Homo sapiens: one gene and its partners. The protein of the gene in region 1 purifies or fractionates together with the protein of each later gene. This does not show direct contact. Each region holds a gene or a part of one and is shown in the gene's direction. Other genes may lie near its edges.

What was found.
Region 2: the proteins of NDFIP2 (region 1) and NDUFAF1 purify together in Homo sapiens (affinity purification with mass spectrometry; one large-scale study listed by BioGRID and IntAct). This does not show direct contact.
Region 3: the proteins of NDFIP2 (region 1) and FAM8A1 purify together in Homo sapiens (affinity purification with mass spectrometry; 2 studies listed by BioGRID and IntAct, with this or other methods). This does not show direct contact.
Region 4: the proteins of NDFIP2 (region 1) and TMEM245 purify together in Homo sapiens (affinity purification with mass spectrometry; one large-scale study listed by BioGRID and IntAct). This does not show direct contact.

The regions. Positions count from the first base shown.
Region 1 is NC_000013.11:79,517,590-79,525,331, forward strand, and holds part of NDFIP2 (NEDD4 family-interacting protein 2), read left to right. Parts: intron 1-3,220; coding exon 3,221-3,386; intron 3,387-7,742. UniProt on the Homo sapiens protein: Activates HECT domain-containing E3 ubiquitin-protein ligases, including ITCH, NEDD4, NEDD4L, SMURF2, WWP1 and WWP2, and consequently modulates the stability of their targets. As a result, may control many cellular processes.
Region 2 is NC_000015.10:41,387,238-41,394,301, reverse strand, and holds the end of NDUFAF1 (complex I intermediate-associated protein 30, mitochondrial precursor), read left to right. Parts: exon of another isoform or gene 1-197; intron 198-5,779; coding exon 5,780-5,854; intron 5,855-6,708; coding exon 6,709-6,858; 3' UTR 6,859-6,949; downstream 6,950-7,064. UniProt on the Homo sapiens protein: As part of the MCIA complex, involved in the assembly of the mitochondrial complex I.
Region 3 is NC_000006.12:17,601,623-17,609,364, forward strand, and holds part of FAM8A1 (protein FAM8A1), read left to right. Parts: intron 1-967; coding exon 968-1,088; intron 1,089-3,283; coding exon 3,284-3,407; intron 3,408-4,251; coding exon 4,252-4,391; intron 4,392-6,572; coding exon 6,573-6,717; 3' UTR 6,718-7,742. UniProt on the Homo sapiens protein: Plays a role in the assembly of the HRD1 complex, a complex involved in the ubiquitin-proteasome-dependent process of ER-associated degradation (ERAD).
Region 4 is NC_000009.12:109,033,909-109,041,650, reverse strand, and holds part of TMEM245 (transmembrane protein 245), read left to right. Parts: intron 1-3,533; coding exon 3,534-3,634; intron 3,635-5,270; coding exon 5,271-5,445; intron 5,446-7,742.

The DNA.
Region 1 (7,742 bases):
AGAGGTTGTTGACTGAGTTAGTGGGTTTTACTGTTGATGCATGGTAATATTCACATATTATAATTTTGTCAAAACCGTAGGTGTTAGCTAGGGCAGTTGAAATAAATTAGGGCATGTTTTATAGGCTCCAAAGCTTTATTTTGGAGCTTATATATAAAAGTGTTTGTAGTTATTCCTTTCATTTTAGTTATTTGAGTAAATTTTGACAGTTTTTGAAAGTAAGTTGGTCATTCTGGGGAGCACATTTATGTATTCAATGTAGTAAAGAGTGTTTTTTTTGAGAAACTGGAAGAGTGCTGTTTTGCATATAAGATTTTTCGTTTGTAAAGCTCGCTGTATCTGCATTTGCAGCTTTAATAAGAGATGTGGAAAAGTGGTTTTCCCTTTTTGACACCTTCACAATTAATTGTTTAGGTGATATTAACAAGTAGACATCTGTATTAACTTTTATTGGGCTTACCTTGCTGATCTAACATTTTTGGTCTTAAAATATTATCAGTTAAAGATAATTAAGTGAGGAATTCTCCTGGGTACCATGTAGTAGGAAGACATGGGAGACGGATGGTAATACCAAGTGCAACATGTCACTAGTCAAGAGGGTAGTCATTTAGTGCCTACTTGGAAAAGTGCTGCAAGAAATATAAACTTCATTAGGCTCATAATCATAAAATTCACTTACGATTATTTGGTTTTTGAATTCAATTTATGTGAATTGATCTCATTATGTAAATCTTAATGTTATGATGTTTGTGGAAAGAGTGGTCTTAGTAACTTCATAAATGATTTTAGGCATGGTTATGACAGTTTTGTTAAGTTATAATACATTCACTATCTCACAAAAATGTTTTGCTAGTGTGATCATTTACCAAGACATGGAAAAAGCAATGTGTAGTAAATTGACCTCTTGTTTTACTTTGCATTTACTTATTTATTTCAGAGATGAGTGACTACTGATTGGATTGTTAGAGAGTACCACATAATTTCTCTTTAAGGTGATGAAATAAACTAAATAAAAGGGAAGAAGTGGGAGAATAGTATTTGTTAAATCCTTCAGTGTGTTGGTTGTTATATTAGATGCTTTCCAAATATTATTTTACAAGCCTATGAGGATTTTGGCTGCATTCAGAGCTAATAGGTGAACACTAAGACATGGAGAAGATTTTATCAGAGGTCCTAAAAGGTAGAGCAAAAATTTACATGCTGATCTTTCTTTTTTCTTTCTTTCTTTTTTCTTTTTAAGACACTGTCTTACCCTGTCATCCAGGCTGGAGTGCAGTAGCGTGGTCACGGCTCACTGCAGCCTCATCCTCCTAGGCTCAAGTGATTCTCCCACCTCAGCCTCCTTAGTAACTGGGACTACAGTCACATGCCAGACTTGACCATTTTTTGTATTTTTTGGTAGAGATTGGGTTTCACCATATTGCCCAGGCTGGTCTTGAACACCTGAGCTCGAGCAGTCCGCTTCCCTCAGCCTCCCAAAGTGCTGGGATTACAGGTGCCAGCCACTGTGCCCAGTCCAACATGCTGTTCTTTCTAAATTCCAAAATTCATGTTCATTTTGCTACATCACATTCAAATTGGTATGTATACTAGCTTTGTGACAAAATTTATTTGGGAGATTATTTTTAACATTGAATTTCTTAGAGTAACAGGAATAAATTAAAATATGAAAATTAAATAATATGGAAAACTAGTAGTTTCTTTTGAAATAGAGATTCCAGTTTTAAAAGTATCTTAAAAATTTTTAATAAGACTTTTTGCCAAATATATTTAAGGATCAAAGTACTTCTTGATGAATCACTTTTTATCGTATTGATGCCTTTGACTCATCTTAGTTTGTCTGCATGTAGTTATTACCAATTCGTGAGGAATGGCCATTTCAAAGTTTACCATAAATGAAGTAAAACGTCTTCAGTCACACTGCTTGGCTTTAATTCCTTACTCTACTCTTTCTTACTGTTGTGACATATGGCAAGTTACTTTAGCTTCTGCACTTCCTGTTTGTTGTTTTCCTTTTATTGGTGATAATAACAGTCTCTGTCTCCTAGGATCTCCTAGGTTGTTGTGGAGATTCAGTTAAGTAATTCAAGATCTCAACATTTTATTAGCATTTATTAACTCTCAAGGAATTTGTTGAGACGAAGAGCATTTGCTAGAATTTTATATACACATCAACTTATTTTGCTTTAGTAATTTTTTTGTTGGTTTGTTTGTTTTTGAGACGGAGTCTCGCTCTGTCACTTTGACAATGTCAAGGCTGGAGTGCATTGGCGCAATTTTGGCTCATTGCAACCTCTGCCTCCCGGGTTCAAGCAATTCTCCTGCCTCAGCCACCCGAGTAGCTGGGATTACAGGTGTGCGACACCACACTCAGCTAATTTTTGTATTTTTAGTAGAGATAGGGCTTCACCATGTTGGCCAGGCTGGTCTCAAACTCCTGGCCTCAAGTGATCCACCCACCTTGGCCTCCCAATGTGCTGGTATTACAGGTGTGAGCCACTGTGCCCAGCCTTGCTTTAATAATTTTTTTTGTACTTGGGAAAACCTACTTAGCGTACTCCACATTTTTAGAATGTTTATCTGTTTTATTCCATTTCATTAATTCAGCTTTCATTTCTGATTATTCTAGATTCACACATTTTTTCAGGAGGCTCATAAGTAGGAAGAGATGGTAGTAGAGATGGTATTGTGGCTATGTTATTAGGATTTTTGCTTTTCTTTGTAGTATGTAATAACTCTACTGTTACAATTGCATACTTCCTCTTCCCCGTAGCACCAAACCTTCTCCTTCTACAGTCTCTCCGATTTCAATAAATGGCTTCAATAGGCCAGAAACCTTGGAGTCTTCTTTTGGTACCTGATTTTAAAATTACAGTAGGCCCCCTTATCCAAGGGATGTGGTAGACCTTTGATATCTACTTTAGGATCATATGAATTTGTATTTATTTTGAATCATGATATTTTCTTTGTAAATTCTTAATTTGACCTTCCTCTTTATTGTAAAGAAACTGAAAATTCTGAACTTCTTAATAACTAAGTCTTTACAAATTGTTTTTTAAAAACTTTGAAATACTAGTGTGATTTTGTATACTATCTAAAAATGCCATTTTCTTTGTGTTTGGCCAAAAAGCGATACTGTGTCTGAAATGATAAAATCAGCTTAAAATTTAAAAAATAATTAGCATTACATTAATGTTTTGTTTTTCTTTTGTTCTCTTAGCTTCTTAATGAAGAGGATAACTCAGAATCATCGGCTATAGAGCAGCCACCTACTTCAAACCCAGCACCGCAGATTGTGCAGGCTGCGTCTTCAGCACCAGCACTTGAAACTGACTCTTCCCCTCCACCATATAGTAGTATTACTGTGGAAGTACCTACAACTTCAGGTATGAAACATCTAGTAATGTTTTTATTAGTTCTTTTTTTTTTTTGACATTTTGGTTTTGTGTAATTATCATGTCTGTTAATGGGCTTATAAACATATATACACATGGATATTTATATATGTATATACATACTGTGTGCACATATAAATATACAGATGTATACACACATATATATGTGTGTATGTATATATGTGTACGTACTTATATAACCATAAAACAAGATGATGGTGAGTGTGAATGAGAATGTGGTATATGTGACTGTAGGTGAAGGGTGTACGTAGTGATATCCCATACATATGATAATTACTGAATACAAGGCAATAATTCCTGTTTGCTACTGTTCATCTTATTCAGGTCACTCTAAAGAACTAATCTATTTTTCTGGCTACAATTTTTATTTCCTAAGCAATGATTAATTATTCAGTTTGATCAGTTTTGTATACCAGTGTGATTTAGTATACTATCTGATGATTCTTTAATTTTATATGTGATTATAACTTCTCTAGTCTAATAATTTCTAAATAAATTCTAAATAACTTCTCTAAATATTTTATATACTCATTATGAAACATTTTCATTTTAAAAATCAGTTACTGAAAAATATTTTAACAGAAAAAATTTTTCACTAGAACTTTTCATCTTATTCTGTATTTAACATCATCTACTGCTCTCAAATTAATGCCAGCTTTCTCTGGTTAGCATTTTTGCATTTGGAATGTGTAAACTCAATATTTCTTCTACCAAATTCATTTACTTTTTTTGTGTAGTTACTGAAAATCATTTTTTCATGGTGTCCTCACTAATGAAGCTAATACATGCTTACTCCTTTTATTTGGTTTTCGTTTTGCTTTTTTTTTTTTTTTTTGAGACGGAGTCTTACTCTGTCGCCCAGGCTGGAGTGTGCAGTGGCCCAATCTCGGCTCACTGCAAGCTCTGCCTTCCAGGTTCACGCCATTCTCCTGCCTCAGCCTCCCAAGTAGCTGGGACTACAGGCGCCCACGACCACGCCTGGCTAATTTCATTTTTGTATTCTTAGTAGAGACAGGGTTTCACCATGTTAGCCAGGATGGTCTCTATCTCCTGACCTCGTGATCCACCTGCCTCAGCCTCCCAAAGTGCTGGGATTACAGGCGTGAGCCACCGTGCCTGGCCTACTCCTTTTATTTGTATAAAATGTTTATTTGATGATTATGCTTGCTCATTGCCCAGTTTTATGCACAGTTTTTATGTTGATAACAATTTTGTCTTTAGCTATAAGATTTAACAGCTGGTTTGATGCCTGTTAAAATTTATTATATGCTAAATAGTAATTCTTCAATATTTTACAAGTTTTCACAATATAATAATAAGACTTTGCTACCTTAGATTAAAAAAATTAATTTGATTATAATTTTGAAGAAAGAAAATGAGTTGTTTTCCTACTGATGTTTGTCTGAGTAATGAAAGATACTATGAATAATTTTAAGAGTGCAATTGTGATACCATTGCTATTGCTGTGTAACAAACTACCCAAAATATAATAGAGTAAAATATCAATCATTTATTACTGTTAATTCTTACTGTTCTGGGAGTGGACTGGACTGAACTATGCTCTTCTCTCCTAGAGTCTTATGTGACTGTTGTCTGATGGTGGCTGGGGTTGGAATTATCTCAAAAGCTTCTTTTTTCACAAGTTTGGTGGTTTATACTGGCTTCAGCTAGGACCACAGCTGGGGCTACTGGCCAAGACAGTTATATGTGGCTTCTTATTGTGGCTTACACTTCCTCAGTAGATGGTGGCTGGGTTCCAAGAACAAGCATTCTGAGAGAAAGTCAGATGGAAGCTCTATCACCTGTTATGATACTGTCTCAAATGTCACATGGTATCCCTTATGCCATATTTTGTTGTTAGAAATGAGTCACTAAGTTTAGTCCTTATTCAAGAGGAGAGGAATTCATCTCTACTTCTTGATGAGAGGAGTTTTAAAGAACTTGAAGACTAACTTTTAAAACTCTCACAACTGCATACTTACCCTTCCCCGTAGCACCAAACCTTCTCCTTCTACAGTCTCTCCTATTTCAATAAATGGCTTCAGTAGGCCAGAAACCTTGGAGTCTTCTTTTGGTACCTGATTTTAAAATTACAGCAAGCCCCCTTATCCAAGGGAGATGTGTTCCCAGAACACCAGTGGATGCCTAGAGCTACAGCTAGCACTGAACCCTATAAATACTGTGTTTTTTCTATACATACTGTTGTTTGTTTGTTTTTGTTTTTGTTTTTTTAAGATGGAGTTTCATTCTTGTTGCCCAGGCTGGAGTGCAATGGCGTGATCTTGGCTCACTGCAACCTTCACCTCCTGGGTTCAAGCGATTCTCCTGCCTCAGCCTCCCAAGTAGCTGGGATTACAGGCATGTGCCACCACACCTGGCGAATTTTGTATTTTTAGTAGAGATGGCATTTCACCATGTTGGTCAGGCTGGTCTCGAACTCCTGACCTAGGGTGATCTGCCCACCTCGGCCTCCCAAAGTGCCGGGATTACAGGCATGAGCCACTGCGCCCAGCCCATACTGTGTTTTTTTAATATATACATACTTATGATAAAGTTTAATGCATAAATTAGGCACAGTAAGAGATTAACAACAACTAATAATAAACTAGAACAGTTATGGCAATACTGTAATAAAAGTTATGTGAATGTAGTCCCTCTTTCTCTTGGAATACCCACTCTTCTTCATGTGATGATATGAGATGATAAAATGCTTATATGATGAGATGAAGTGAGGTGAATGACATAGGCATTGTGATGTAGTGTTAAGGCTACTATTGATCTTCTGATGATATGTCAGAAGGGGGATTGTCTACTTCAGGTGATCCTGGACTGCAAAACCATCACGATGTCGATGAGTATGGATCCTTGATAGTTGGAGGTTATTTTGCTGAAACCTTTTGGAAGAACATTGTAACTGGAAGTTGTTGTCTCTTTTTTATTAACTCATTGAAGTATTGCTGCAGAGGTTGTAGTGCTTCAGTGATCATATGGGTGACTTTGATACTGTGCCCCATTAAGGATCATATTCTATAATTTTGACATTTAATGTCCGTGCCATTTGAAACACTTCAGCAGATTTTGGTAATGGCCACGTTACTGATTCTGCTTCATTTTCTTCTTCATCTTCCTCTTCCTCTGTAGATGACTCTAATTCTTCCATATCCTCATTATTAACACTTCTTGATGGCCATCAGTATGCCCTTCTACTTCTTCATCAAGCATATTGGCAAATCCTTCTCCACCAACTTGTCTTGCTGTGTGATTTTCCTGGCTTCTCTGCTGATCCCCAAGAAGCCTTTAAAATCATTCATAACTTTACTCCAAACATTCTTCAGGGAGACATCTACAGTTTCTGGTTTTAATTCATCAGTTGCAGCTTTGATGAATGTTACTGCATCAGCAATAGTGATTTCCAGCACTGTATTATGTCATGTTAGGGGCTGCATCGATTGCTGATCAAATGTGATTAAATACTAGGCAAGTGTATGTGGCCTTGACTGACCAGATGATGCACTGGTCAAGGGACTGAAGCAATGAGGTTATATTTGCAGGTCAAAGTAAAACCTTGACATTTTCATTTTCATAGCAAACAGATTCAGGATGGTCAGCTGCATTGTCTATTATTAATAGGACTTTAAATTTCAACTGTTTTCTTCCAAGTAGTTTTTCACTTGGGAGATGAAGCATTGGTGGAACCATTCCATAAACAAGATAGCTGTCACCCATACTTTCTAATTATGTTGCCAGAATTTGGGCAGATAATTTTTCATTTTTTCTTTGAGGGCACATGGATTCTTCACTTTGTACACTATGCTTGGCTCTGTCATATGCCCTGCAGTGTCACCACACGGTACCTGAGTTAATCTGTCCTTCCATGTTTTATGCCTTGATGCCTCCTTTGTACTTTGATAAATGTCAGTTCTTTCAGGCATCTTCTCCCAGAAGAGCCCAGTTTCATCACAATTGAAAGCTTGTTTGGATGGTATCCTTTCTCCTTAATCAGCTTCTTCAACTCTGCCGGAAATGTGACAGCAGCTTCTTCATTAGCAGACACAGACTCTCCAGTAATTTTATATTTTTTAGTCCAAACCTAATCCTCAATCTGTGTGACCTTTCTTTATTTGCAGTAAATGGCTCAGTGTCTCTGGTTTCAGGAGATTCCTTGCTGAAATCTTTGTATAGGCTCAGTGCCTTCTGGTGCAACACATTGCCATCAGTCGGAACATGTTTCTGCTTTTGTCCTTCACCTATAAATTTACTTCCTCTTCCATCTTAACTAAGCACTTATCACACACTGTGGCCAAAACTTTTGCAGTTTGAGATGTG
Region 2 (7,064 bases), on another chromosome or scaffold:
AGCACTTTGGGAGGCCAAGGCGGACGGATCACTTGAGGTTGGGAGTTCGACACCAGCCTGACCAACATGGAGAAACCCTGTTGTCTCTACTAAAAAAAATACAAAATTAGCTGGGCGTGGTGGCGCATGCCTGTAATCCCAGCTACTCGGGAGGCTAAGGCAGGATAATTGCTTGAACCCAGGAGGCGGAGGTTTCGGTGAGCCGAGATCGTGTCATTGCACTCCAGCCTGGGCAACAAGAGCCAAACTTTGTCTCAAAAAAAAAAAAAAAAAAAAAAAAAAGTAGTGTCCTAGGCCAGGCGTGGTGGCTCATGTCTGTAATCCCAGCACTTTGGGAGGCCAAGGTGGGTAAATCACCTGAGATCAGGAGTTTGAGACCAGCCTGGCTAACATGGCAAAACCCCATCTCTACTAAAAATACAAGAATTAGAGGCCAGGCGCGGTGGCTCATGCCTGTAATCCCAGCACTTTGGGAGGCCGAGGTGGGCAGATCACGAGGTCAAGAGATCGAGACCATCCTGGCCAACATGGTGAAACTCTGTCTCTACTAAAAATAAAAAAATTAGTTGGGTGTGGTGGCGTCGTCCCAGCTACTCAGAAGGCTGAGGCAGGAGAATCGCTTGAACCTGGGAGGCAGAGGTGGCAGTGAGCCGAGATGGGCCACTGCTCTCCAGCCTGGCGACAGAGTGAGACTCCATCTCAAAAAAAAAAAGGCCGGCCGCGGTGGCTTACGCCTGTAATCCCAGCACTTTGGGAGGCTGAGGCGGGTGGATCACGAGGTCAGGAGATGATGGAGACCATTCTGGCTAACACAGTGAAACCCCGTCTCTACTAAAAAAATACAAAAAAAATTAGCCGGGCTTGGTGGCAGGTGCCTGTAGTCCCAGCTACTCAGGAGGCTGAGGCAGGAGAATGGCGTGAACCCGGGAGGCAGAGCTTGCAGATCGTGCCACTGCACTCCAGGCTGGGCGGGAGACTTCGTCTCAAAAAAAAAAAAAAAAAAAAAAAAATTAGCCGGGCATGGTGGTGTGTGCCTGTAATCCCAGCTACTAGGGGGGCTGAGGCAGGAGGATTGCTTGAACTTGGGAGGTGGAGGTTGCAGTAAGCTGAGACCGTGCCACTGCACTCCAGCCTGGGCAACAGAGCAAGACTCCGTCTCAAAAAAAAAAAAAAAAAAAAACTCAACAAGAAAGTCCCCATTTTGCTCATGTCATATACTTGAGGGTCATCCTGAATTCTTCTCCTTTGCCCCACATCCAGTCTATTAGCGAGTCCTGTCACCTCTGCTTCCAAAATACACTCAGCAGCTGACCATTTCTAGCCATCTCTTCTACTCCCACCCTGGTCCAGGTGTTTGGATTATTGCAGCAGCTTCATTATTGATTTCCCTGTTTGTCTTCTTGCCCCACTAAAATCCTGGCTCCACAGCAGCCAGAGTTATCTTTCTGAAGCATAGTTCAGATGACATCATTTACATGCTTGTAAGCATGTAAATGTACCTCCTAAGCATGTAAGCTGTATTAGTCTGTTCTCGTGCTGCTGCTATGAAGAAATACCTGAGACTAGGTAATTAATAAAGGAAAGAGGTTTAATTGACTCACAGTTCTGCAGGGCTGGGGAGGCCTTAGGTAACTTATAAAATCATGGCAGAAGGGGAAGTAAACACATCCTCCTTCACATGGTGGCAGGAAAGAGAATGAGAGCCGAATGAAGGGGTAATCTCCTTATAAAACCATCAGATCTTGTGAGAACTCACTGTCACTAGAACAGTATGGGGGAAACCACACCCATGGTTCAGTTAACTTCACCTGGTCCCTCCCTTGACACATGGGGATTACTACAATTCAAGATGAGATTTTGGGTGGGGAGACAGCCAAACCATATCAGGACCCTTCAGTGGTTTCCCATTACAATTCGAATAAAGTCCAGGCTGGGCTAGGTGGCTCATGCTTTTAATCCCAGCACTTTGGGAGGCTGAGATGGGCAGATCACTTGAGGTCAGGAGTTTGAGACCAGCCTGGTCTACATGGTGAAATCTTGTGTCTACTAAAAATACAAAAAATTAGCAGCAGGTGGTGGCACACGCCTGTAGTCCCAGCTCCTCAGGAGGCTGAGGCAGGAGAATCGCTTGAACCTGAGAAGTGGAAGTTGCAGTGAGCCAAGATCGCGCCACTGTACTCCACCCTGGGTGACAGAGTAAGACTCCATCTCAAGAAAAAAAAAAAAAAAAAAAAAGAATAAAGTCCAAACTCCTGCACATGGCCTATGGGCCTACAATATCGGACCCCTGTCTTCATCTTCCATCTCTCCTCCTGTCTTCATCTTCCATCTCTCCTCCTACCTCCTTCCTCCACACCAGCCCCTTTTCTGTCAGATTTAACAACCTCATTTCCATCTCAGAGCTTTGCACTTAGTGTTGCTCTGCTGTAATGCTCTGCCCCCATGTCTTCACCTGCTTTCTCTTTCCTGTCATTCACCTCTCGGCTCAAAAGTTGCCTCAGAGAGGCCTTTCCTGATTCCTGTAACTAAAGTTGGACCCTCTAATCCAGTTATTTCAACACCACCATCCTATAACTTTCTTCATAGAACTTATCACTAACTAAAATTACTTTGTTCATTCATTCATCTGTTTATTGTCACTCTACTGCCTTCCCTGGAACATAAATTATATAAATTCTTTTTTTTTTTTTTTTTAAGATGGAGTCTCACTCTTACTGCCCAGGCTGGAGTGCAGTGGTGTGATTCCAGCTTACGGCAACCTTTGCCTTCCAGGTTCAAGAGATCCTCCTGCTGGGACTACAGGCGTGTACCACAACGCCCGGCTAATTTTTGTATTTTTAGGAGAGATGGGGTTTCATTCACCAAGTTGGCCAGGCTGGTTTCGAACTCCTGACATCAAGTGATCCACCCGACTCGCCTCCCAAGGTATTGGGATTATAGGCGTTTGAGCCACCACACCTGGCCCTAAATTCTGTAAATTCTGTGAGAGCAGAGATCTTGCTTATATTGTTCCTACCAGTTTCCCCTGTACCTAGAATTTTGTCCTAGTGCCTAGCACAAAATAAGCACTCAATACATACATATATATGTAGTAATACAGATATATAACACAAATTATATATACTTGTATTTAAGTAATATATATATAATGAATTATTATACAAAATAACTACTTCATTATAAAAACAATTTGGGAAGTACAGAAAAAAATCTTGTACTACCACTATCCAGTGATAAAATACTATTTTTATTTTATTTTATTTTTATTTTTGTAAGACAGAGTCTCGCACTGTCGCCCAGGCTGGACTGCAGTGGCGGGATCTCGGCTCACTGCAAGCTCTGCCTTCCAGGTTCACACCATTCTGCCTCAGCCTCCCGAGTAGCTGGGACTGCAGGTGCCCACCACCACGCCCAGCTAATTTTTTGTATTTTTAGTAGAGACAGGGTTTCACCGTGTTAGCCAGGATGGTCTTGAACTCCTGGCCTCATGATCCGCCCACCTCGGCCTCCCAAAGTGCTGGGATTACAGGCATGAGCCACCATACCCAGCAGATAAAATACTATTTTTTTTTTTTTTGAGACAGAGTCTGGCTCTGTTGCCCATGCTGGAGTGCAGTGGCACGATCTCTGCTCACTGCAAGCTCCGCCTCCCGGGTTCACGCCATTCTCCTGCCTCAGCCTCCTGAGTAGCTGGGACTACAGGCACCTGCCACTACACCTGGCTAATTTTTTGTATTTTTAGTAGAGACGGGGTTTCGCCGTGTTAGCCAGAATGGTCTTGATCTCCTGACCTCGTGATCCGCCTGCCTTGGCCTCCCAAAGTGCTGGGATTACAGGCGTGAGCCACCGCGCCTGGCACAAAAATACTATTTTTAATATGTATCTTCTACACTTTTCTAGTCACACTTTTCCCTTCCAGTGGTGTTTTATAACATATATACAGTATTTTCACTGAACTATTGTTTACAACTTTCTCTTCAAATATATTTCTACATCATTTTTAATGTCTGCATGATATTATATAAGTAGACAACAATTTTGGCTGGGTCCAGTGGCTCACATCTGTAATCCTAGCACTTTGGGAGGCTAAGGCAGTGAATCATTTGAAGCTAGGAGTCTAAGACAAGCCTGAGCAACATGGCAAAACCCTGTCTCTACAAAAATACAAAAATTAGCCCAGTGTGGTGGCATGTGCCTTTAGTCCCACCTACTCAGGAGGCTGAGGTGGGAGGATTGCTTGAGCCTGGGAGGTCAAGGCTGCAGTGAGCTGAGATCACCCTACTGCATGCACTTCAGCCTGGGTGACAGAGTAAGACCCTGTCTCAAAAAAAAAAATTTTTTTTTCTTAACTTGTTCTTCATTATGTACATGTAGATTTAGATTGTTTTCAGAGTTTTCTACTGTCGGAACAAACTCTGAGGTAAACATCCTTAACTATTTTCATAGGCTATATTCCTAGAGATAAAATTACTGGAATAACTATTAATATGTATAATTCATTTTTATTTATGTTCATTAAAATTTATTTACTTATTTGAGACAGGGTCTCTCTTCTGTTGTCCATGCTGGAGTGCAGCATGGGCTCGCTGTAGCCCCAACCTCCCAGCCTCAGGTGATCCTCCCACCTTAGCCTCCTGAATAGCCAGGACTACAAGGATGCACCACCATGGCTGGATAAGTTTTTTGTTTTTTTACTAGAGTCTTGGTTTCACCGTGTTTCCCAGGCTGGTCTTGAACTCCTGGGCTCAGTTGATCCTATTGTGTTGGCCTCCCAAAGTGCTGGGATTACAGGCATGCACAACCAGGCCCAGCCATTTTCTTCCTTTGTTAAACTCAAAATATAAATAAAATTAGCATACTCTGTACCTGTTTTTTGTGTTTTTAAAATTTAGGAATATATCCTGGAGAGCTTCTGTATAATTATTTAGGCAGGGTGTGGTGGTTCATACCTGTAGGCCAAGGTTGGCAGATTACTTGAGCTCAGGAGTTTAAGACCAGCCTGGCTAACATGGTGAAACACCGTCTCTACCAAAAAAAAAAAAAAAAAAAAAATTAGCCGGGTGTGGTGGTGTGCGCCTATAGTCCCAGCTACTCAGGAAGCTGAGGTGGGAGAATCGCTTGAACCTGGGAGGTGGAAGTTGCAGTGAGCCAAGATGGCACCACTGCACTCCAGCCTGGGTAACAGAGTGAGACCCTATCTCAAAACAAAACACAAACAATTAAAGCCAGATATAGTTTTAAAAGATCGTGCTTAATAATAAGTAAATTACATAGAGAAGAAATATGAAAATAAAGTTGATGAATAAAAAGGCACACTTGAAAGTTCAAGAGTAGAAGGAATAGGACATTTCTTTTAGTTCAGTTTCTAATGTAGGAAGGAAGGGAAACGTTAAAATTCTTTTTTCTTTTTTTTCTGAGATAGAATCTAGCTCTATCGCCCAGGCTGAAGTGCAGTGGTGTGATCTTGGCTTACTGCAACCTCTACCTCCCGGGTTCAGGCAACAAAGTGAGACCCCATTCTCCACAGAAAGAAAAAAAAAAAAAAGCTGTGTTTAGGATACTAGTCTTTTTTCCATAAATGTTACAAATATTTTTTTCATAGTTAACCCTTTATCGTTTGGCCTGAGTTATATCTTTGATCCAAATGGCTAGCCATTTGTCATAATACATATATGACATAATTTTAGAATAAATGTAAACTCATTTTATCGTTACAATTACATGCAGATGCCTCAATTGCTTACATTTCAGTTATGAAGTAAATGGTTTCTTCTTTCAGATTCCTTTTTCCAAATTTTTCTTCTCTAATCGAGGAAGAATCCGGGATGTTCAGCATGAGCTTCCGCTTGATAAGGTAACATATTCCTGTATTTTTCACTCAGAACTGTATCATTTTTAATGAATCGGAACTCTGGGGAGACTGAGTTCATTTGAGAAGGCTGGCAGATGAATATTTCTTCTCAGGGCCACTGCTCTTATACCCAGCCAGAGGCTGACTTAGACCTCTCCTATGAACCATACCCCCATCCTGAAGGAATTTTAGAAGGATCATTTTTTAGCATGCCTACATTTTACTTTAGCTATTTTCCCCCCTCCCTTCTCTCCTAATTTAGCTTTAAAATAAGAGTTTATGAACGCTTCAAGGAACTCCATTAGGCATTCATGTCGTCCTTACTAGTCTTTTTGTTTTTTGACATGGAGTCTTGCTTTGTCACTCAGGCTGGAGTGCAGTGGCATGATCTCGGCTCACTGCAACCTCTACCTCCCGGGTTCAAGCATTTCTCCTGCCTCAGTCTCCTGAGTAGCTGGAATTACAGGTGCCTGCCACCACACTTGGCTAATCTTTGTATTCTTAGTAGAGACGAGGTTTTACCATATTGGGCAGGCTGGTTTTTAACTGGACCTTGTGATCTGCCCACCTTGGCCTCCCAGTGTTGGGATTACAGGCCTGAGCCACGACGCCCGGCCGTCCTTCCTAGTCTTAAGTGGCACTACCTAATGAGGAGAGGGGAGGAAGTTGAATGAGGAAAGAAAAGCAGTCTTGTATTTCCTCTTACAGTATGCTATGGGAGAATTAGTAGTATTTGCTAAGGGCTGATAGCATTAAAACCCAGTTATAATCATCACCTGATGGGATTTTAAACTCCTGGAATAATCTCAGTACGTCACTGTATGAGATTTTAATCAATTTCTGTATTTTAAATTTAGATCTCTTCTATAGGATTCACCTTGGCTGATAAAGTGGATGGTCCATTCTTCCTGGAGATAGATTTTATTGGCGTGTTTACTGATCCAGCTCATACAGAAGAATTTGCCTATGAAAATTCTCCAGAGCTTAACCCAAGGCTTTTTAAATAAAGATCATATGGTAGTTTTGTTTTACTAATCTAAGGGTACTAGCATCTACAATGATATAGACAAAATAAAATATTTCTTTAATGGCATCCAACCAATGGCTAGTATGTATTCTCTCTCTTTTTTTTTTTTTTTTTTGAGATGGAGTTCTGCTCTGTCGCCCAGGCTGGCATGCTGGCGTGCAGTAGCGTGATCTCGGCTCACCGTAA
Region 3 (7,742 bases), on another chromosome or scaffold:
TGTATATTGTGTAATTGTTTTTGCTTCTGTGTGTGAACTAGAATATTTTGAATTAGTTACACTTCTTAGTTTACTATTTAAACTATTAGACTTTTAGTTTATTTTAGTTAGCCACAGATAGATGGGACAAGAACTAGTTGATGCCTCTGATCCCAGTCAGAATTTAGGATGACAGATTGATACTCACTGGGTTTATTTTAAAGAAAGCAAAACAAACTAAAAAACGGGTGGGGGGGGATTACAGGGATTTACTTTATACTAATTGCCAATATTTAACCTTGATTTGTACTAAAAAATGTTTAATTTTGTGTGACTTAGATGTGATCACCTGGATTCTCCTCATTAGAATTCCTAGTGAAATGTAGTGGGTACCCTAATCAAATTTATCTGTGAAATCAGTTTTCTAGGGGGAAAGTGGGGAGGGTGGGGACAAGGTCTGCTTCTATCGCCCAGCCTGGATAGTGCAGTGGCGATCTTGGCTCCCTGCAGCCTCCGCCTCCCAGGTTCAAGCCGTCCTGCCACCTCAGCTTCCCTAGTAGCTGGGACTAAAGGCATGCGCCACCACGCCCGGCTAATTTTTGTATTTTTTGTTGAGACGGGGTTTCGCCATGTTGGCCAGGGCCAGACTGGTCTCGAACTCCTGGCCTCAAGCAATCTGCCCGCCTCGGCCTCCTAAAGTGCTGGGATTACAGACGTGAGTCACTGCACCTGGCCGTGTGAAATCAATTTTTAAACGTTAAGGTGATGAAAGCAAACTTTAAGCTCAGTAAATAGTGGATTCTCTGTTACTCTATTTTAGTAACATGGATTCTTGGTGGAATCAATATCAATAGTTGCTGCACGGTTATAAATATTTTTTATTAAGTTGTACCTTGACTTTCTTTAGCAATTCATTACATGGCTTGTGTTCCAAGGCTTATGTGAAATGATTCGTTTTTCCTAACTTTTTTTTTTTTTTAATTTACAGGCAGAGAATATGTTATTCCATCCTTGGCCCACAGATTTATGGCAGAGATGGTGGATTTCTTTATTCTCTTCTTTATAAAAGCAACCATTGTCTTAAGCATTATGCACCTCAGTGGGATAAAGTAAGTTGAGGACATTTGCAGAAGGGTTTTAATTTCTACTGTTTAATGATCTTGTTTTATTACATTCTGTTTGTCTACACGTGACTATATGGATAATGGGCTTGTCAGTGTCATGATTTCTTTATAAGAGCTTTGTTAGATTTATTGTTTTCTTGTTGATTTTAAGAAATAACTAGAAAGGAAAAAAAATAGCTTACTGAATTCTATAAGATGTGTGGGAATCTCACCTATCAAAAATAGGTAAAAAGAGCCTCCAAACCTGCTTTGATTTTATTCACCTATTCTTTTAGGCCAGGAACTAATTTACCTCTCACTATCCTGTTCCCTCTTGCTATCTTGTGGAGTCTCTAAAGACAAAGGTATAAAGAGCTTTTGGTAGGTGAATTAATAATCAACTAGATGGCATTTCCAAATGGGATTGCACATACTGTGGGGCAAGTCCCAAGTGAACTTCAAAGTGAGACGTTTATTTGAGTAATCCTTCCAGATTAACAATAATCATAATAGCAGTTACCACTTCCTGAGTACTTTCTATATGCCATGTATTGAGCTTGCTCACTTCTTTATGTGGATTCTTATTTAATCTTAATACCAAGATGAGGTGTAGAGATTAATACCACCATTTTATAGAGTTTGAAATTTGGGTTTATGAAAAGTTGAGCACAGAACCTAAAATGTTACAAAGGTAGTAAGTGACAGAGTCAAGATACAAGCCTGTGCAGTCAAATTTCAGGGTCCTTGCCAGAAACCTGTTACTGTGATTCCTCCCTGTCCCTCCCTCTCACTCCACTCCACATCCAGTGAAATACCAACTCCTTTATGTTCAATTTTCTGAATAGCTTTCAACCCCAGACCTCCTCACTGCCAGATCATTTTTCTTTTTTTGAGACAGAGTCTTGCTCTGTCACCCAGGCTGGAGTGCAGTAGTACAATTATGGCTCACTGCAGCCTTGATCTCCTGTGCCCAAGTGACACTCCCACCTCAGCCTCACAAGGAGCTGGGACCACAGGCATGCTCCACCATGCCTAGCTAATTAAAAAAAAAAATTGTTTTTTGTAGAGATGGGGTCTCCCTATGTTGCCCAGGCTGGTCTCAAACTCCTGGGCTCAAATGATCCTCCTGCCTTAGCTTCCCAAAGTGCTGAGATTACAAGCATGAGCCACCACACCTGGCCCATTTTTTATCATCATTGCTTCTCCCTACTCCGATTACTGTCGTCTCTTGCTTGGATTATAGCAGAAGCCTTCTAGTGGTAACTCAGTCTCCTGTTTTATCTCAATCCAGTCTCTGATATAAAACCAAAGTGATCATAAATCCTGGTTCTGTTCCTTTCCTACCTTAAAACCCTTCAATGGTTTCTCTTTTTAAAATGTTTATTGTTTTTTTAGAGATGGGGTCTGTGTTGCCCAGGTTGCTTTCAAAATCCTAGGCTCAGGCGATCCTCCCACCTCAGCCTCCCAAAGTGCTGGGATTACATGCGTGAGCCACCATGCTCAGCCCCTTCAATGGTTTCTCTTTACCAGCAGGATAAAGTCTGAATTTCATCATGTGGTTTATACTCAGGAGGCTGTCTCAACCTCCCAAGTAGGTGGGACTGCAGGTGCATACCACCACACCCTGCCTTTATTTCTTAATCACTGCCACCTCTCACATTTAGTATATGAGCCACACCAAACTGCTTACAGCTTCTATCATATTCTCTCTTTCTCCAAGACATTCTCTCCTGCTGTTCCCTCTTTCTGGAACGTTATTTCCTCTTCTTAGTCTGGCTAACTTCTCTTCATCCTTCAGAGCCTCATCTAACTGTCTTTTCTGGGAAACCTTCACAAGGTTAAGTGTATCTGGTGTATGTTTCCATAGTATCCTAGGTTCCCCATCACAGCACTCATCCCACTTTATTATTGCTATTTATTTATTGTTCTGTTTTCTTTGCTAGGTTAGACCCTCCACGAAAGCAGGGACCGTGTAAATTCATTCACCCTTATTTCCCCCGTGCTAGTACAGTGTCTGCTCATGATAATGCTGCTTATTTGTTGAATAAACTAATGAATGCTTTATGATACTAGATGGTTGGGAATCTAAAGATTAGTTTAGAATTTCAATTAAAATGTATGACTTGCACTAATGAAAAAAAAGTCAGTGCTACTGTTCTGGTAACTAATTATTTATAACCCCAAACTATTATTTTGTGTAGGGATATCTCTAAGTTTGCTATGCATTATATAATAGAAGAAATAGATGAAGACACATCAATGGAAGACTTGCAGAAAATGATGGTTGTGGCACTTATATACAGATTATTAGTTTGTTTCTATGAGGTAAGCTACTGACTTCAGCAAGAATTAATATTTAACAATCTAATTTTATGTTTTTACATTTATTTTTTTGAGACAGAGTCTCGCTCTGTCACCCAGGCTGGAGTGCAGTGGTGTGATCTTGGCTCACTGCAACCTCTGCCTCCTGAGTTCAAGTGATTCTCCTGTCTCAGCCTCCTGAGTAGGTGGGACTACAGGTGCATACCACCACACCTGGCTAATTTTTGTATTTTTAGTAGAGACAGGGTTTTGCCATGTAGGCCAGGCTGGTCTCAAACTCCTGGCCTCAGTGATCTGCCCACCTTGGCCTCCCAAAGTGCTGGGATTACAGGCATGAGCCACTGCACCTAGCCAACAATCTAATTTTAGATTATCAGCCCAAGACGAAAAAGTAATCGAAATTTATAATTATTCATGTCTTTTCCACATGTCTACTTTTCTGTTTTTTTTCCCAAATTTTAACTAATCATTAAGTAAAAACTTTTGGAAGAGAGACATTTTACAATTTCTTTGTAATATTTTTCAGTCTTAGAAACTCAAATAAAATTTCACTTATAGATTGTGGTCCAAAAATATACTTGTAAATTGCAATGTAGTTTTCTGCAGAAGCAGCTTACTAGAAAGTATAGTAGTCATAGAGAAATATTACAGGAGACAGACATCTTGTGGTATTGGACATGTTAGAGACCTACAGAAATGCATAAAGTTAAATGGTTAACTTTTGAGTATTCTATGCAATTCTTTCAACTTGAAAAATTTAAAACATGAAATAATATGGTGGGAAAAGTTTATCTTTAAAATTGGTATAGTTGAGCCAGTAATTTTTAAATCATCCTTCTTTCCTTAGATAATTTGCATTTGGGGAGCAGGTGGAGCTACCCCAGGGAAGTTCCTGCTGGGGCTTCGAGTTGTGACATGTGATACATCAGTGCTTATTGCACCAAGTCGGGTTTTAGTGATTCCTTCCTCAAATGTTAGCATTACAACGTAAGTCCTTTTCTTAGCTTAATCTACTACATACTTAATGAAAATAATGTGTTTTAGAATATTGGGGTTTTTTTCTTCATAGTAGATAGGCTTATATTTATTAAGTTAAAACAAAGTTTGAATATTTATTTCAGTTGTGTTACATGATTGTAGACCTCTTTTACAGTACACATTTTCAAGATGATTTTTTTTTTTTTTTTTTTGTGAGACGGAGTCTCACTCTGTTGCCCAGGCTGGAGTGCAGTGGCACAGTCTCGGCTCACTGCAGGCTCCGCCTCCCAGGTTCACGCCATTCTCCTGCCTCAGCCTCCCGAGTAGGTGGGACTACAGGTGCCCGCCACCACGCCCGGCTAATTTTTTGTATTTTTAGTAGGGACGGGGTTTCACCGTGTTAACCAGGATGGTCTTGATCTCCTGACCTCATGATCCACCCGCCTCCGCCTCTCAAAGTGTTGGGATTACAGACGTGAGCCACCATGCCCTGCCTCAAGATGATCATTTTATGAATTATAAGTCACAATACGAGAGGATGATTTGGGTGTTGATGGTGTATTAGTGCTCCACAATCAGCTTTATTATTCTTTGGACCTGTGGATGTTAGGTCAGGTACTAGTCTGCCTTGAGTCTCCATTTGGCCATGCCTGTCATTATTCCATCTTGAATAGGCAGCAGAGTTTTGACAGCTATGCATTCGTGCATCCTTCTCCTGCTGTTAGGTGAGAGCTTGTAATACTGCCAGTATTCAAGGTTAGCTGTTGGCATCTAGCGCTGGGGGAAGGTACAACCAGTGATAATGGAAACTGTGGAGGTCAGTGGCTGGTAGTCAGTTGAGCCAAACAAGGTATTGGCTGCAATTTTTGCCAGAATGATTCAGAGCTGGATTGTTACATCAAGAAATATAAACAAGTGATTCTAGAAACCTTGGTTTTGCCATCTTCAAATTTTTCTTAAAATTTGGTAGTTATAGCCGGGCACAGTGGCTCACGCCTGTAATCCCAGCACTTTGTGAGGCTGAGGTGGGCAGATCACGAGGTCAGGAGATCGAGACCATCCTGGCTAACATGGTGAAACCCCGTCTCTACTAAAAATACAAAAAATTAGCCGGGCGTGGTGGCGGGCCCTGTAGTCCCAGCTACTCAGGAGGCTGAGGCAGGAGAATGGCATGAACCCGGGAGGCAGAGCTTGCAGTGAGCTGAGATTGCACCACTGCACTCCAACCTGGGCGACAGAGCAAGACTCCATCTCAAAAAAAAAAAAAAACAAAACAAAACTGGTAGTTATAAACCTACCTACTTCTTTTAATAAGAGTCAGTAATGGCTAATGTTTATTGAGTACTTTTTATATACCTGCACTGTTAATAACACTGCATATGTATTAATTTAATGCTAACAACCTCATAAGATAGAGACTATTGATCTATATCTATAGTATCATAAGATACTATAGGTAGTCTCTATCTATATACTATAGGTAGTATCTATATACTATAGGTAGTATCTATATACTATCTATAGTATCATAAGATAGATACTATTGTTCCCTTTTTGCAGATGTGGAATACAACTAGTAATTGGTAGACGATGGATCTGAATTTAACTAGTCTGGATTCAGAACCCACACTCCTAGCCACTGTACTTTTCTGCAGCCCTTCAGTGCACTAAAAGGCAGAAATCTAACATAAGTAGGATAATTCTCCATCCTGAGTGATTGTTGAAAGCTTTTAAAAGCTTTGCTTAATCACTGGATCCCACAAAGGAAAATGCTGATTAAAGAACACACAGTACTTTAAAATGCATGTTTTTTCTATAAGGTAGACAAATGGGACTACAGTAAGCATACTCAGAAAGTACTCAGAATTAATGTTCATTTCTTCTGAGAAAATACTAGAAAGCTCTGTAAACCATTAATTCAATATTCTGAGACATGTTTATTACTGCTTTTTATGTTGTTGAAGTCTTATTAGAAATAGCCCAGGTGGTTTGATCATGATACAGTGCTACTTGAAAATATATCAAAGGTAAAAATTCTCTCAACTATACCTTGAATGTCTTTTTCCCTGTAGACTTCTGTAGAGAAGTACAATTGTGTTTTAAATGTCTATTTTGAACTTGATGGGATACCATTAATCTATATGTGGTTTGATGTGTAACTTACCTGATATTTTTGTTTTAACTTTTTAGGTCCACTATCCGAGCTTTGATCAAGAATTTTTCAATTGCTTCTTTTTTCCCTGCTTTCATCACACTGCTGTTTTTTCAGCATAATCGAACAGCTTATGACATTGTAGCAGGAACCATTGTGGTAAAAAGAAATGGGGTCAGATGATGCCCCCCAAAACCCTGATTTCCACACACTAAGACTAAATTATGTATCAAGGCCATCAGTATCCCTGGGTTACACTAATTGATGATTTAGAAATTAAAGCAGTCACTCCAGTGTGATGCAGGTGACTACTCTGAAAGTATTGATTATACTTGAATGCCAAAGAACTTGTCCAGAAGAAAAACCTGTTAAATTCAAGTATTAAAATTTTTAGATCAAAAAGGCAAATGATTTTATAAACAATGGACAATATATACTTTCTTAAGATCTAAGGTACTTTCTTAAGATCTAAGAATTTGCTGAAAGCATTTTCAGCTTTGAAATCTCCAAATGAAACTTTAAAATTTATTTTGGTTTATCCCAAAATAATGGAAAATGTCCAGTTGTGTTTTGTAAACACCTATGTAACTCATCTTTTAGTTTACACTTCCTGGGGAAATTGTCTTTGGTGTTTAGAGGAGGGAATGAGAACACAAATTGGATAATCCACTGTCTCCCATCCCAGGAGGTGGTGAGTTGGCTACAAGAGAAAGGGACAAGTGAGGCAGGCCTAGCAGTTCCCTTACCTGAAGTTTTCAAATCCATACTGCAGTTCCCTCTCGTAATGATGTAACTTTACAACTATTCTTAATGCTTGAACATGTATTTAGGGGCAAGTTTCTCATGATGATGAAAAAGTATCAAGTCATATTGCTATGTTAATTGGTTTTTTTTTTTAAAAGGTAAGTTAGTGATTACTGTTAATGGTGGGGGAGTAAGTTTTCACTGTAAATTGAACTTATAATTTATGTGCAAGTGTTTTCAGTGCCCTGAATCAAACTATAAATGTGGGGAGAAATCACCTCCATCAAACAGTTGCATATTTACTGTAAAAGTATTCCCAGTATGTGTGCAGCATGAAGAAAGTATTAGTGCTTCTCAGTGTTCTCAGTGTAAATTCTATTTATATACAGCATATTCACATACTACTTTCCTTATATTTTATATAGTTCTATGACTGTTGAAACATCAAGGAGTTAAAAAAATCT
Region 4 (7,742 bases), on another chromosome or scaffold:
GATCTACTGAACTTATGCATCCTAACTGAAACTTTGTACCCTTTGACCATCTCTCAGCCCCTGGGAGGCTGAGGTGGGAGGATCACTTGAGCCCAGGAGGTGGAGGTTGCAATGAGCCAAGATTGCACCATTGCACTCCAGCCTGGGTGACAGATTGACACCCAGTCTCAAAAAAAAAAAAAAAAAAAAAAAAAAAATTTGTAGGATGGCAACCACATCCTACTCTCTACTTCTATGAGTTCAACTCTTACATTCCACATGCAGTATTTGTCTATCTGTGCTGTGCCTGGCTTATTTAACTTACCATAATGTCCTCCAGGATCATCTACGTTGTCGCAAATGACAGGATTTCCTTCTTTTGGGGGGGCTGAATAGTATTTCCTTGTGCACACACCACATTTTCTACTAATAGCCACTGCTTATTGAGCATCTACTGTGCACTAGGTCAGTTACTAGGTGCTTCAGATGCATTGTCATTTAGCTTTTCATGGGTTGAATTGTTCTTCCTGCCAGCATCCACTCACATGAAACTGTGAGGTTTAACCTCATACCTTGAGGAGATATGTGGTGAGGTAGGAGGCAGTGGCTTCTGGGTTGGTGTCCGTGGACTATTAGTTTTTTCGGAATTGAGAGATTAAAGCTAATATTAGTTATAAAGTTAAATAGATACCGTATGACCCAGTATCTCCACTCCTAGGTATTTACAGACGAGAAATGAAAGCATATGTCCACAAAGACTTGTACACAAATGTTCATAGCAGCATTATTCATAATACCCCCAAACTGGAAACACCTCAAATGCCCATCAGCTGGTGAATGGATAAGCAAGTTGTAGTAGATCTACATAATGGAATACTACTCAGTAGTAAAAAAGGAACCAACTACTGATATACTCAACAATGTTGGTGAAGCTCAAAAGCATTATGCTAGGTGAAAGAAACACCAAAAGCTACACGACAACGTGAATGTACTTAGCACTATTGAACTGCACACTCAAAATGATTCAGATGCTAAATATTGTGCCATGGATATTTTGCCACAATTTAATACAAAGCTATATAATGTATGGTTGTGTTTACGTGAAATTCTAGAAAAGGCAGAATTATAGTGACAGCATATCTAGTGGCCATCAGAGGCCAGAGTTTAGGGAGGGTTTGACAATAGAAGGGCATGAGGGAACTTTTTGGGGTGATGGAAATATTCTACATCTTGATTGTAATGATGGTTATAGAATGTATATATTTGTGCACATTACTGAATTGAATGCTTCAAATTGGTGAGTTTTATTATTTGTAAATCATAGTTTAATAAAGCTGATATAAAAAAGAAGAAAAAGTTGCTAGGAATTTGAGGGAGTTAAATTCTGTTTTCTGGTAAATTGTAAGAGGATTTTTCTCTGCTGTTTTATTTATAAAACTTGTGTGCCAGATCACAAGTAATGAGGTAGAGGGGAATATATTGTCTTTTCATCCCTCACTAGGTTACATGAATATGTTTAGTAACTGCAAACAATATACAGTGCATTTAAAAGTTGCCTTGAGAACATTACCAGCAACCAATATTCTCAGCAGTGAAAGAAAGAAGACTGCTGTCTTCTCCACGTGGTCCTTACTGGATTGAGCCTTGGTTACTTGCCACCCAGAGGGGTGATTGAGTTGCAGTATTCTGTTGCACCTTTGATGTCAACTTATTTTTGGCTTAAATTTTTTAAATAACATAAGGTTAAAGAAAGGATCACATCTCTATCTTTTCCTCATTGACCTCCCTAGTTCTAGACAAATTCTATACTTTTTTCCTTTCTTTTTCTCTGTGGTCGATTATGTCATTATTCCCTCCCCCTCAAAACCTACCTTCTCCCTTGGTCTCCGGGAATACTGCACTCTAGTGATTTTCCTCCTACTACGGAAATGATTTCATTACCTCTCTGGCTGGTATTTCTTTGTCTTTAGGTCCTTTATGAAAACACAACCTGTTGCCCTATTTTCTCTCCACTTGCCCTTTTAAGATGTCCTGTACTCTTTTATAATTATTCTGGTGCGTCTCAGATGTCTTGTTCTGAATTTTCTATTAAGCCTTGTCTCTTATTTCAGCTACCTCTAGGGTATTTTCATCATCCTTTTTGAGTTCCTGTTGCCCATACTAAACAAACTGCCCTTTTCTTGCATGCCTCTTCCATTCTGGCCTTCTCCATGACTTTGAGACACTGCTATTCTTTCCCCTTCAGGTTTAAAACCTGAAGCTCTGTTGTTTTCTTTTTGCTCTGTCCTCTCTGTTTAGTTGTTGAGCAGATCCTTGGTATTTTCTTTGGGGTCTTTCGCTTCCTTTTGGTATTTTTGATACCACTTTATTCTGGGTTCTTGTTGCAGAGTCATATGGCTCCTTTAAGACGTTCTCTAGTGAAAGCCATTGGTCCGGATGACAAAGCAGGTTTTACAATTGGGGAGCCACTCTGCCCCTGGATCCATGTCCCAGAACACTACTAAATGACTAAATCACTAGATTACAGGGCTTCACTTTGCTCCTAACAGTATACCTCTTGGGATGCTTTAGAAAAGCTTGGTGTTTCTTTTTGCATGTACAAGGTCACGTTTGCCGCTAACGTCTTCTTTTTCAACTACAGCTTTTCTTCTGTAGTGACCATATGAAGGTGCTTTCCCTGCACCCCTCTGCACCACCCCATAGAGTCCAGGTTTTTATGATTTTGTGCTGCCTTGAGATTACTTACGGGTTGCCACCTTTGTGCTCTCTGAACAGTTCCTTATTTCCCCTCCTTATAGTGCTGCACTGCCTTACTAATCTTCCAACTGAAAAACACAGAGCACCTGACATTGCAGATTTTCATGTATTGAATTCCTATATTAGTCACCAAATATATGTGTCTGTTTTTATCTCTCTTGTATTTTCCTCTCTGATTTTACTTTGGAGTTAGGAATATTTTTTTTCCCACAAATTCTCTCCCAATGACCTACTTTCTTTGATAGCATTTGTAAGAGATGTTACTTTGTAGGCTTAGTTACATAGTTTAAGAAACATAGGAAGATTTTGTTAAGGCAAAGAAAGATGGTGAAATACAAGTTACACTATCCCTTATTGGCTCTTTCCAAAAGGGGAGGACTGGCCACAGCCTGGGTTTCTTAGAGTTTAAACTGTATTCTTGGAAACATGTTATTCACGCTTAATTTTCTTTCCATTTGTTTTGGTGGTGAAATATCTGCTTCAGAGTGAAAAGTTGATGAATTATTTCAGAGAATAGGGTATTTTAAGGTGTTTCAGTTATTTTTTCATCAGAAATTTAAGGAATAGTAAACATATTTCCAAATAAAACATATTTCATATTACATAAAGAATAACTTAGTAAATGTATTTAAAGTAAGGTGTTTATGTTTCTTTGAAATAAAATGAAAATAGCATTCTCAGGCCAGCAGAAAAACTGAAGCTATTACATGATTTGGAATCAAGTGGTCACGTGATTTTTCTGAATCACGATATGACACTGTTTATTTACTCTTTCTTTTTATCTTTGGGCATTCCAGAGGGGTGTTTGATGCTTCCCTCAAAATGGCTGGCTTCTATGGATTGTATACCTGGCTGACTCATACTATGTTTGGCATCAATATTGTCTTCATACCATCAGGTAACAACCATATTGTACCTTCCACTATTCGCTATTTAAGGAAAGTTAAGCCATTTTACATACATCTAGGAAATGTCTACTTCCTCAAGTTTAAAAAACTAAATTTTTTGGCTTGAGATCGAATCTAGTCCACATTAGGAACAGAAATATGATTTGTAATGTGTTTGTTTATTGCTGTATCCCCAGCAGCTGGAACCATACCCAGCACATAGAAAAAATTGCTGTATTAGTCTGTTCTCTCACTGCTATAAAGAAATACCTGAGATTAGGTAATTTATAAAGAAGAGGTTTAATTGGCTCACGGTTCTGCAGGCTGTACAAGAAGCATAGTGGCTCCTGCTTTGGGGGAGGCCTCAGGAAACTTATAATAGTGGTGGAAAGTAAGGGGGAAGCAGGCATGTCTTACATGGCTGGAGCAGGAGGAAGAGAGGGGAGAGGTGCTACCACAGTTTTAAACAACCAGATCTCACGATAACTCATTCATTCACTATCATGAGAACAGCACCTAGGGGTGAAATCCACCCGCCATGATCCAGTCACCTCTCACCAGGTTTTACCTCCAACATTGGGGATTACAATTTGACATGGGATTTTGGTGGGGACACAGATCCAAACCCGTATCAGTTGCCCTACATGTTTGTTCAATGAATGAATGTTCTAGCACTTAGCATAACACCTAGGACATAATTGGCTCTCAGTAACGTTTGAATTGAACTGATTGGCAGGGAGCAACTTGTTGTCAAAATAGCTTTGTCCATGAGGGATTACATCCCAGGGCAAGATGAATGCTTCTGAGGGCACATAAGCTGCCTCCATACCTCTTAAGATCTGTTGTGGTGCTTCTTCTACTTTTCCTTCCTTTATTTCTATGGCTGCTTGTTTTCCTAAATATCTCTGCCTTCCACATTTGCCTCTACCACATCCCCCCCTTTCCCTATTTGTCTGTGCTTCCTTCTACATTGTCAAGTTCATTCACGTTCTTCTCTACTGTGATGTCCACAAACCTACCCTCTGACCTGCAAGCACCCTGTGAGGCGGGATGGTAGACTTGTCATATAGATGAGAGACCAGTTTTCCAAGGTCATGTACCTGGCTTCTGGTAGGACCAGAACTAGAAACTACATTTGCTTTACTCTTAACTTGGAGAGAAGCCAGATGGAGGAAGAGTGCTTGAACATACTGCTCTGGAAGGGAATGACCTTGAAGCAGGGTCCTTCAACTCAGGATTTTTTCTGTTTATTTTTATTATGCTGAGGTTTAGAAACTAATTTCTGATTGGGCTTTGGACTCAGTACAAGTTTTGACACATGTTCTGTAGGTGTATTTATAGGACCGTATATTAACTATTGATTGATAGTAGCAACTACAGAACCCTTGAATTTTATTGCTTAAGAAGAGATCCATAAATAAGACACACACTTAGAAAGATTTTTAGTATCACATTTTAAGATATTGAGCCTTTACTTAGCTAGAAAATTCAGTTAGATAGGGCATATCATTTCCCTAATATTTGAGTTTGTGAGTATTTAACTTGTTTTGTTGGAAGTTGTTGAGGAGGAGCTACTGCTTAGATTCTTTTGCTTTGTTAGTGTTTTGCTGATGATGTTAAGTTGTTTTTCTTTTACTCTTTTTTCAGCATTAGCAGCAATCCTTGGAGCAGTGCCATTCCTGGGGACATACTGGGCAGCAGTACCTGCAGTTCTTGACCTGTGGCTGACACAAGGGTTAGGATGCAAGGCCATTTTACTGTTGATTTTTCATCTCTTGCCAACATACTTTGTAGATACTGCAATCTACTCTGACATATCAGGGTAAGTAAGCCACAGAATTTCTTATTAGTGAATCATCCAGGCATTTCCGTTTTTTTTTTTTTAAAGGAGGATTTTTTTCTCCTGGGGGTATACAAAAGAACTGGTAGTAGGAATTTTCAGTGAAATAGCCTTTTGTGTTCCCACAAATGAAATTTTCATTGAAAATAGTATTGTTTACAAGGCATGATATTTTGGGGTTTTTTTTTTTTTTTTTGGTTGTTGTTGCCCCAGAGTTCCAGAGCAACTTTTTTTTTTTTTTTTTTTTGAGACAATATCTCTTTCACTCAGACTGCTAGAGTGCAGGGTGCAGTCATGGCTCATGGCAGCCTTGAACCTTGAACTCCTAGGCTCAAGCAGTCCTCCTGCCTTGAACTTCCCAAGGCACTAGGATTACGGGAATGAACCACCATGCCCAGCCAATATTTTCTTATTACATATGTAATATTTATAATATATATGATGTCCTGGGTTAAAACCAAATTGTGAATAATTTTCTCTTGATTTAGTGACATTTAACCTAGAAAAGAATTATGACCAGATGTACATCAAATATTTTAAGTACAGTGAACAGTTAATGATTATTTTTATCTCTTCTTTGGTTTTGGAGAAAATGTTGTTAGATTGTATGTCTGAGGATATCCATGTGAAACCAAATCTCAGCAAGTTAATTTCTGGCAAGCAGAGCTCTCTAAAGATATAATTGGAATGGTTCTATGATAAATACAGGTTAAATCTAAGTCAGAATCAACACTTTAGCCATATAATACAATAAATAAATGTCTGTTTTTATAGGTTTTGACATCTCTTTTAGAAATTGCATTAAGTATATCAAGCCAGTTCTCAGTCACATTAAAACTTGAGAGAGAAAATTAAAAAGCTGAACATCATAGTGTGGTTAACTAGTGTGTCACAGTTGACATTTGAGCAGGAATAAGTATGATTAATACTTAAGTGCTTTTATTTCTTTAAACTTTGCTGTAAATTTTATATTAAGGTTTACAGCTGGAATTAAAGAAACACTGTCTTTTTTTTTTTTTTTTTTTTTTTTTGAGACAGAGTCTCCCTCTATCACCCAGGCTGGAGTGCAGTGGTGCAATCTCGCCTCACTGCAACCTTCGCCTCCCAGGTTCAAGCCATTCTCCTGCCTCAGCCTCCTGAGTAGCTGGGATTACAGGCGTGCACCACCACACCCGGCTAATTTTTGTATTTTTACTAGAGATGGGATTTCACCATGTTGATCAGGCTGATCTTGAACTCCTGACCTCAAGTGATCCGCCTGCCTTGGCCTCCCAAACTGCTGGGATTACAGGCATGAGCCACGATGCCCGGCCTAAAATACTGTCTTTAAACGTTGTTATTGGGAAATGAAAGGTTTGGCATAAATTGTTTTATTTTTTAATAGGTTAAGCTTTTATTCATAAACTCCCACACGTTTTTATTTTTTTTAAAAAAAGCTTTAAGGCTGAGCATAGTGGCTCAAGCCTGTAATCCTACCACTTTGAGAGGCCGAGGTGGGTGGATCACTTGAGCCCAGGAGCTCAAGACCAGCCGGGGAAACATGGTGAAACCCGTTCTCCACAAAAATATAAAGATTAGTTTGGTGTGGTGGCACATGCCTGTAGTCCCAGCTACTCAGGAGGCTGAGGTAGGAAGATCACTTGAGTCTGGGAGGTCAAGACTGCAGTAAGCTGTGATTGCGGCACTGCATTCCAGCCTGGGTGATGGAGCGGAATAAAAAGCTTTAAGCATTTTTGATAGTTTTCCTTGAATGTGTTGTTTAGGGAAGAAGTTTACTTAGCAAACATGGAATACTGCCCTAAATCATTTTTTTGGAATGAGAAAGACAAACACATTATGAATATAATTTATTGGTTTCCTGAAGACTGGTTCTCCACAAGTCTTACTTTGATTTAGCTGTAATATAGAACATCCTTCCAGGATATTTAGTTATTTGCCCCTCACTGAATTGTTCTTCTCATCTATGTTTAAAACTAGAAACAAACAGAATGTGACTTATTTCCCAGTCCTTCTGATGTCAGTGGTCCTTTCTTGTCATTATCAATGTGCTATGCTACTGTGTTCTGTTTTATTTCATTCCGCTTACATAAGTGATACTGTAATAAGCTGGAGGGCATTTGTGATTCTCCTGTGAAATAGAAATCTTGGGCTTTGTGACAGATATTTTCCTCAGGAGGCCTTTTATCATCACCTATGTTAAAAACTATATTTTAGGAGGTTGCCAAAAGTCTGACCTATGAGTAACAGGGATGCTCTCATTGTTGCTGTCGTCATATAAA